Linked DNA regions of Homo sapiens: region 1 is linked to region 2. Evidence: fine-mapped expression QTL. A gene starts in region 2. The other region holds a variant in brackets. All regions are shown on one strand. Distances are between the middles of the regions.

Evidence for each region.
Region 1: its variant is fine-mapped to the expression of LINC01140 in spinal cord (GTEx, PIP 0.99).

Annotation. Positions count from the first base shown.
Region 1 is chr1:88,032,731-88,037,124 of GRCh38, forward strand. No RefSeq gene overlaps it. Among named protein-coding and RNA genes, the nearest start is that of LINC01773, 130 kb to the left of the region's middle. RefSeq lists enhancers at 2,356-3,555, 2,588-3,289. The variant G/A (reference allele first, on the strand shown) is at 2,526.
Region 2 is chr1:87,127,401-87,131,794 of GRCh38, forward strand. LINC01140 (long intergenic non-protein coding RNA 1140) reads left to right here and starts at 2,365. Exons shown (of 3, transcript NR_026989.1): 1 at 2,365-2,594.

The sequences.
Region 1 (4,394 bases), 910 kb after region 2:
TTATGATCATGAATTGGAAGACAATAATATTAATATAGCCATATTCCCTAAATTAATCTATAAATTCAATGCAACTATTATTAAAATTCCTACTGCTTCATTTTTTGCAACAATTAACAAGCTTACCCTGAAATTTACTTGGACATGCAAGGGACCCAGAATAACTTAAATGATATTGAAATAAAGAACAAGGTTGGAGGACTTACACTTCTCAGTTTCAAAACTTACCAGAAATCTATAGTAATCAAGACAGCGTGGTATTGGCCTAAGTAGACATAGATAAAACAACAGAATAGAACTGGAAGTTCAGAAGTAAACTCTTATATTTATGGTAAATTGATTTTTCACAAGGGTTTCAAGTCAATTCAATAGGGGAAAAGAAATCTTTTCAAAAATTGGCACTGAGACTACTGGATATTTTCATGTAAAATAAAATGGAAATGAACCCCTATCTCACATTCCATTCAGAAATTAATTCGAAATGGATCATAGTCTACAATATAAGAGCTAAAACTATAAAACTCTTAGAAGAAAACAATAATGATAATTATTCATTGACCTTGGATTAGGTAATGGCTTCTTAAATATGACACCAAAAGTACAACTATGAAAAGAAAAAAAAATAGATAAATTGGACATCATTAAAATGTAAAAACTTGCATTTTCAAAAGACACCATTAATAAAGTGAAAAGACAGCCCATGGAATGGGGGAAAATATTTGCAAATCATTTATCTCCTAAGAACTTCTGTTCAAGACATACAAAGCACTCTTATAACTCAACAATAAAAATAAAAAATACTCCAATTTTTTAAAATGGGCAAAAGATTAGAATAGACATTTCTCCAAAGAAAATACATTAATGGTCAACAAGCACATAAAAAGATGGTTAACATTTCTAGTCAACAGAGAAATATAAGTTAAAACCACAATGTGACACACTTCACACTCACTATAGTGGATAACAAAAATAAAAAAGACAAATAATAAGAAGTGTTGCCAAAAATGTGAAGAAACTGAAGCCGTAATACATTGTTAAGAATGTAAAATACTGAAGCCTCTTTGGAATGTTTGACAGTTCCTACAAAAGTTAAGCAAAGATTTAACATATGACCTAGTCATCCCCCCACATAATTATATTCCAAGAGAAATGAAAATATATGTACATATAAATATTTGTACTGGGATGTTCATAGTATTCATAATAGCAAAACACTGGAAACAACCCAAATGTCCATCCACTGTTGTATAGGTAAAATGTGGCATATCTGTACAATGGAACGTTATCTGGCAATAAAAGTGAATGAATTACTAATACATGCACAACATAGATGAACATTGAAAACATTACGTTAAGGGAAAGAAGCCAGTCAAAAAAGCATATATTCTATGATTCCATTTCTATGACGTATTCAGGATAGGAAAATCCATATAGTCAGAAAGCAGTTTAGTGATTTCTAGCGGCTGCAAGGAGGGTGAATGGGGAATGACTGCTAATAGTCACAGAGTTTCTGTGTAGGGTGATGAAAATGTACTAAAACTAGATAATGGTGATTACTGTGTAACTGTGAATATAGTAAAAAACATGAATTGTATTCTTTAAAAGGATGAATGTTATGGTATGTGGATTTTATCTAAATAAAACTGTCTAAAAATTATTGAATTGCATGCTATCATTTTATTTTTTAAGAGATAGGGGTCTCACTACGTGGCCCAGGCTAGAGTACAGTGGCTATTCACAGGCATGATCATAGCACACTGTACAAGCCTCAAATTCCTGACTCAAGCAATTCTCCTGCCTCAGCCTCCCAAGCAGTTGGGACTTTAAGGACATGCTCAGCTCATCATATTTTAAGATTGATGGCATATAAGCTCAAGATAGCTTGAAGTGAGTTCTGGTTCCTAAAAGGCTGATCAAGCTCCTACTAGTCTGACATTCTTAAATACATCAACCACAACTCTAGATAATTACAAAAACAAACAACTTCAAAAAACGTGAACAAAACAAGACAGATGGTGGAGTGGACCATAAACTTGGAAAACGCGTCTTACATGCATTGAATTTTCTGTTTTAGGAATTTTAGCCTGAGGAAAAGCTGAAGTTGAATAAAGGAAACTCACACTTTCTCTGCTCTGAAGATCCAGAGGATTAAGTTCAGGAAAACCATAGCTGTTGAAGAGTAAGGGAGAAATATTAGAAATGAGAGATACTTCAAGCTGGAGAGGTACCAAGTTCTGTGATAGACTCAGCTTAAATTTCCTGCTGAGTCCTGAACCACATGTACCTGAGACAAACACAAAGCAGCACACATAAGGGTTAAAACAAATAAACAAACAAAACTAAAAAGAAAAGGAACTCTTAACTGGTATTTGAGCTGCTGCCCAAGGAACAGCATTTGTAATTTCAGTACAATCAGTTTAATTGCCTGTTACAATGAAAATATCAGTACTCGGTTAGGGCTTCAAGTTGGTTGACTAGAAGCAGCTATCATGTGCCGCTCTGACACAGAAAAGAAAAAGAGAGGC[G/A]TAAATACTAGATTTTCAACTTAAATATGCAGATGGACACCTTGGGATTAATCAAGGAATCAGCTCTACCGGTGGAGAATGGAGAGGAGCGAGACTGGACAACTGCCCATGGGGAGTGGCACAGAACCAGGGGAGGCTCCACCACAGCAGGGAATCAGTGAGTGAGTGAGCATCCCTGGCGACTCCTATTTCTGACACAGACCTTTGCAACCCTGGGCTCAAGAGATCCCCTCATGAACTCATCCCACCAGGGCCTTCAGACTGATATGAAGACCTATGTGGTGCTTATGCAGGATTTTTTGCTCCTTAGTTCAGCTAAATCCGGGTTCTTGTCTCAAGGACACATTGAAGAGTGAGGAGAGCGGAATTTATTAAGCAAAAGGAAAGCTCTCAACAAAGAGAGGGGTCCTGCACCCAAGCTTCCATCTCACAGAATTGAATGTCAGGCCACTACACGGGAGTTGAGGAGGCCAGGCTCCTCCCTGGCCAAAGGCGCGAATTCCTGGTGGCTCCACCCCATTCCCGGCAGTGCTCGAGGGGCATGCCCAGACAAGCTGCCTGTGCGGGTTCCCCATCTGCACAAAGCATCTGGTGTAAAGACTTGTAGGGTGGGTTGGAGATTCTACAGGGACCTTTCCCTATCTGCCTAGGCATTTGGCTGTCTTCTGCCTATATCAGTGCCTGGGCAGAGCTGCCACTAAGGCACATGTGGAGTCCCCAGAGCATTGGATCCCTGGGCATCCCAGCCTTAGCAGCTCCAGCTCCAGCAATGGGGTAAGTCGGGCTCCCTTGCATGCCCCCACGAAAAGGGCAAATCCAGGGGGCTGAGCAGTGATGGACTGCAGGCCTTTGCCTCCACTGAACCTCACAAAATAAAGCTCACTGGCCTAGGACGACAGGCACCCCCAGCTGGGGCTCTCAGGCCCATAGCAGCTCTGCACTTCTCTTGGACAGAGTGCGCAGCAGGTGAGGCAGGCTGCCATCTTTGCTATCTGGCAGCCCTTGCCGCTGTTGCCGTCAGGCTCTGGAGAGTGCCTGGTGACCTGGGACTGGAGCAGACCCCCAGCACAGTGCAGCCACCTCACAGAAAAGCAGCCAGACTGTTTTTCATGTGGGTCCTCAATCCCGCTTCTTCTCACTGGGCAGGACGTCCCAACCTGAGACTCTAACCGCCCTCCACTGGTAGCTGCTCTACATTTCCGTGGGTCAGAGCTCCCAGAGGGAGGGGCAGGCCACCATTTTTGCTACTTCACAGCCTTAGCTGCTGTTGCCTTCAGGCTCTGGAGAGTGTGCAATGATTAGAGGATGGTGCAGGGCCCCAGTACAGTGCAGCTGCTCCACAGAAAAGCAACCAGACTATTTTTTATGCAGGTCCTCAATTCTGCTTCTCACTGGCGGGACCTCCCAAGCTGGGATCCCAGCCACCCCTTGTGGGGGCTCTTGGGTGGCAGTTCTGTACTTCCCTGGGGCAGCACTCCCAGAGGGAGGGGCAGGCCACCATATTTGCCGTCTGGCAGCCCTCAGGCCCCGGAGGTTGTGCGGTGATTAGGGACTGGCGTGGATCCCTGGCACAGTGCAGCTGCCCTGTGGAATAGTGGCTGGGCTGTTCTCCACGTGGGTCCCCATCCCGACTTCTCCTTACTGGGTGGGGCCTCCTGACCGGAGACTCCAGCACAACAACCCTGCCCCTGCCTGAACACTTCAGTCAGAGGCAGCTCTGCAATTCTCTGAGGAGCAAATCCTAGAGACAATTCACAGCCCCTCGCCATTGCAGCTGCAGTGGTACCACCCTAACTCTCCTCATTCTGGGGAAGGAATCAAGGACCTAGTCGCTACACTGGCATCTCCAGCACACAGAAGCAACCACAT
Region 2 (4,394 bases):
TGTGCCCAGACCCGGACAGAGGCTGGCAATGGGCCTGGAAGAAACAGGACCTCCCTGGCTTCTCTCTCCTGGGGGTCTGTGTTTGGGTTGCATGGGGCACTGTGCCATTAGAGACACAGGGGCTTATCTACCTCATGGAGCAGCTGTAGTTAGAGGGAGTAGCTGGTAGTAGAGCAGAAAAGCAGCCTGGTGTCTTGGAAGCTGAGCCAGAGGTCAGGAGAAGTGGGTCACTGCTCTCTGGATGGAGTGATTGATCCAACCAGAGCCAACCAATACAGTTGTGCAGGTTACCTGGAGCCTGGGCCCAGTGGGTGCTGACATCCAGCTCATCTCCTACTCACCACGCCTTGCTCCTTGCTGTAGAGCTGCACCCACTATGAGGAGGGAGAACCTTTTTCTGACTTGAACAAGGGAGTCACATGGCCTTGCTTGGAGGCTGACAGTGTGCGTATGGCGTGAGTGGGAGGGATGGGGCTGCATTCTTCTTTTTCTTAGAACACAGAGGTGTTGTTTGGGCAAGTGGTAGCCTAGAACTGAACCAGTAGATACTGGGGATGCAAACCTGAACAAGACTCTCATTCAAAGAGCTCACAGTACCTTGAGGAAGCAGACAGATATACAGAGTATTCTAACACGTGGGGACAAGGTGTACAGGACATCTCTATGGGTACCCACCCAGATGGGACTGGACAGTGGGGAATCAGAAGCTTTCTTGGGGATGATGTCTAAATGAGTCTTGAAAAGTGGAAGGGGTTGGGATGAGGGTGTAAAGAGTGAGAAGGCACTGAAGGTAAACAGAACTGCAAGATCAAAATCATGGAGGATGAAGGAGCATGGTCCAAGAGCTCTCAGGGAAGACGTGGAGATCCTGTGGGGGCTCCCCACTTCATGTTGTTGCAGTTGAAGACATTTTCAAGTATGAGCAGTTATTCAAATATGAACTAAGCGGGTGATACCCATTCCCTTCCCCAGTGACCAAGACTGGAGGGCTTGAGAACTCCAAGTTCCCAGCATGATGCTTGGCGTTTGAATGCTACTTTCTTCCCCTTCCTCACTTCCTCCTGCCCTTTGATTTTTAATATGAAAACATTTTAATATGAAAACATAAAATATATACATCTGTGTATCTTTCATAACATTCAAAAAAGAGCTAAAAAATGTGAAGTGAAGGGTAATAGCATGATGCTTTGGCCATGGTCGGCTCCCCATGATTTTGTGTCCCCGCTTCTGGGCTGGCTTCTTACAGCGGATTGCAGCTGTGCCCCAGCAAGAAGCTGGCCTCTCTGGATCAATCACTCCAGAAGCGCAGAGGAAAGGGGAGCTTGCCTCAGTAAGCAAAAGTCACCATTATCTGATTATCTTTAGGGATTCCCTACTATCTGGATAGCTAGTCATGACTAGAGAAGATTCTGCATGGAGACAATATATCATTTATTTGGCTTTTATTTTTACTGAATTCAGTGCTCATGGAAAGTGGCACATTGACAACGCTGCTTCCTAGCATGACATCACATAAATAAGTTTGAAGATACTGCTTAATAAGAACCCTTTAAAGATAAGAGAAATGGTAGAAAGAATTGAAGGATGCTGTTTCCTTTTTAATATCTGCCATGAATCATAGTCCAGAGAGAAGACAGCCGAGGCATGCAGGGACAAGACACTAGCACAGGGGTCAGGAGATGGGCATTCACAGTGGGTACAGCTCAGATCCCTGCCTTTGCTTTGGCCTGAGGCTGGGCAGACAGGGACATGGAAAGCTATGGGGCTGGTCTGAAGGGTAGGGTGGGGTGGTTAAGCCTTTGCTGGCACATGGCTTTGCAATCTTGTACACTGAATAAATCCATCAGAGCACTGCATCCACTCACCCAATTAGCCTGCACCTCATGAACACCTATTGTGAGGCCAGCACCATGGGGAAACTGAAAGAACCAGATATTCTACCACCATGGAGGAATGACCTCACCCTGGGTAGTAACTCTTCCCTTCTGCTCATCTACCCAAAGGTAAAAGAAAGTGCAAGTTTCCTAGTTTACATTGTGTTTCTTGAGGGAGAAAAGGCTCTTGGTAAAACAATGCCTTATTCCTTTCGTTTGGAAGTTCTTTCTGCAGAATACAGCTCAACTGGGGGTCCCCAAAAGGCCCCTGAATAATTTAAAAAAAAAAAGAGGTGGTGTCAGGCAAGGGCTTTAGGACGTAGAAGGTCACTTTTGGTTGTTGTCCTGTTGATCCAACTGCTTTACTAACTGGAGCTATTGCTCAAGCTGGAGGGTGAGGGAATGGGTGGGGCTGAGGCTGGGAGTTGCTCAGTAGTTGACCCCAAGTGATCTTGTTTGAGGAAAACTCCTGTGATCCCCCATCAGAATATTTTGAAAGTGGAAGAGTCTGCTGGCGGGAAGGGAGAAGAGTGGGAGGAGGAAATAAGCAACAGGCAGCTTCCTTTCTTGACAGATGGAAAATAAAGGGCCTGTGCACAGCTCGGCGAACTGCTCCGTGGACCTCCCAGCGGGGCTGCTTTCTGAGGTGATGGTCTCCTCGCTCCTTAGCCAGCCTGGTGGAGCCAGCTACTGACGTTGGAAAGGAGTTGGAGGATGGAGGTTTGTGGCCGGCAAATGAGAGGTGTCGGGGAGGGAGAAGAGAAAAGCAAGCGGGCTGAGGAAAAATGTAAGGGAGGGAGATGGTTCTTCGATGAAACCTCTGGCCTCTTTTAAACCATAAAGAGGTCTGGCTGGTTTGATTCCAGTCCATAAAATGGCTCAGTAGGATCTTAGGGATTATTTAGCTCAAACCCCTGAGAGGTGAGGAAACTGAGGCCCAGAGGTCCCACTTGCCTTTGGTCATGGGGTGAGTATGTAGCCCAGCAGGGTCCCAGCTCCTGTGAGCTGCGATTCATGGTGTTATCTTTGCTGGGGAGGCCTGAAGTTCCTTTAGCTTGTCCATGTGAAACAGAGGAAGAGCCCACAAGGAACGCATTCATCTCAGAGTTAGGTGACCTTGGCTTTGGGATCTAGTTGCTCATTACTTCCACTTTCCTTGCCAACATCTTTCCTAAGCCTTCCAGATCAGGGCACAGTACCACTCCCTTGCTGCCAGACAGGTGGCCTGTCGTGTGGGCAGGAAGGGGAGTTCAAGGCAAGCAAGGCCCACTGTGAACCCCCTGCTAGAAGTGCTCTCCCCTTCCTTCTTTTGGAGGTGGCAGTTACTAGGCAGCATGACCCAGAGGAGGAGATAAGCTGCCTCTGATAGGAAGGTTTTATCTTTGAGGTTATTGCAAATATGCCTGACTTCTTCATCTGGTTCTGTCCGGATCTGAACTGGTAGCCAGATAAACTGTTGGCGGTCCCATTTCATGTATTTATCAAGTCTAAACAATTGTCAGGAGGCAATTATCCCCCAGGAAGCCAATGGCAGATAAATAGTGTCCCGCAGTCTGGTTCCAGCCATGGAATCTGTAAGTTGTCCCTCCTTGCCCTGTGCAGATTTTCTCCTCTGTCCCTGCTGCCCTAAATTTTAAAGGAGGTTTGATGTTCCAACACGTTTGCTTTGGTGTTCTTTGCCCACAGCCCCAAATAAAATCTAATGGTTTTTATAGGTGGATAAATCCTTTTTAAAGGCTCTTTTGTTATCACCATGGGGTTTGTGAGCACTAAAACTGGATTTTAAGGGATCAGTGAAACCTTAGAATCACGGTTTGCTGTATCTGGAAGGAACCATGACCACTTGGTACAGACCCTTCAAGCGGTAGATGAAGAGGCCAAAGCACGAAGGGATTTGATGGCTTGTGAAGGCAACGTGCTCTTCAGAGTCGGGCAGACGTGCAGCTGAAGCTTGGTCTGGCCACTGATCTGCTGCCCGGCCTTGGGTAAACTCCTGGAGCCCCTATTTCCTTATTGATTACATGGAGATACCAATCCAGACTGCACAGTATTGTGAGAGGTAGTAAAACTGTTTCCCTCTGGTCGAGGTCAAACAGACAACTGGGGGGCAGAGCTAATGCCAGAACCTTAGTATCCTGGCTCCCAGGTCTTTATCCTTTCCATTATTCTGCAGGAGGTCTTCAGGCTACTGTTAAATAAAAAGTAAAGCTTCTACTTCGTTCCACCCAAAATTCTAGTTCAGTGTTTCCCAGACAGAGCACCTCCAGCGGGTCTGAGGCTCAGTTCTATGTGGAGACTCATGTTTATACGATGACAGCATCTATATTTTTTCTGGATGAACTAATAATCGACTGGCCATTGTATTTAGGAAAAACCAGACATCACCTCATGGACGTCTCATTGAAGGGGACCGTCAGTTATTCCATTCATTCTGGCAAATTTTCTTTTTAGCTTTGGTTGCAGCAGGAAGAGAGAGACGTCTGGGGGGCTTTTTGCCTGTTGGAAGGGCATCACTCGTCC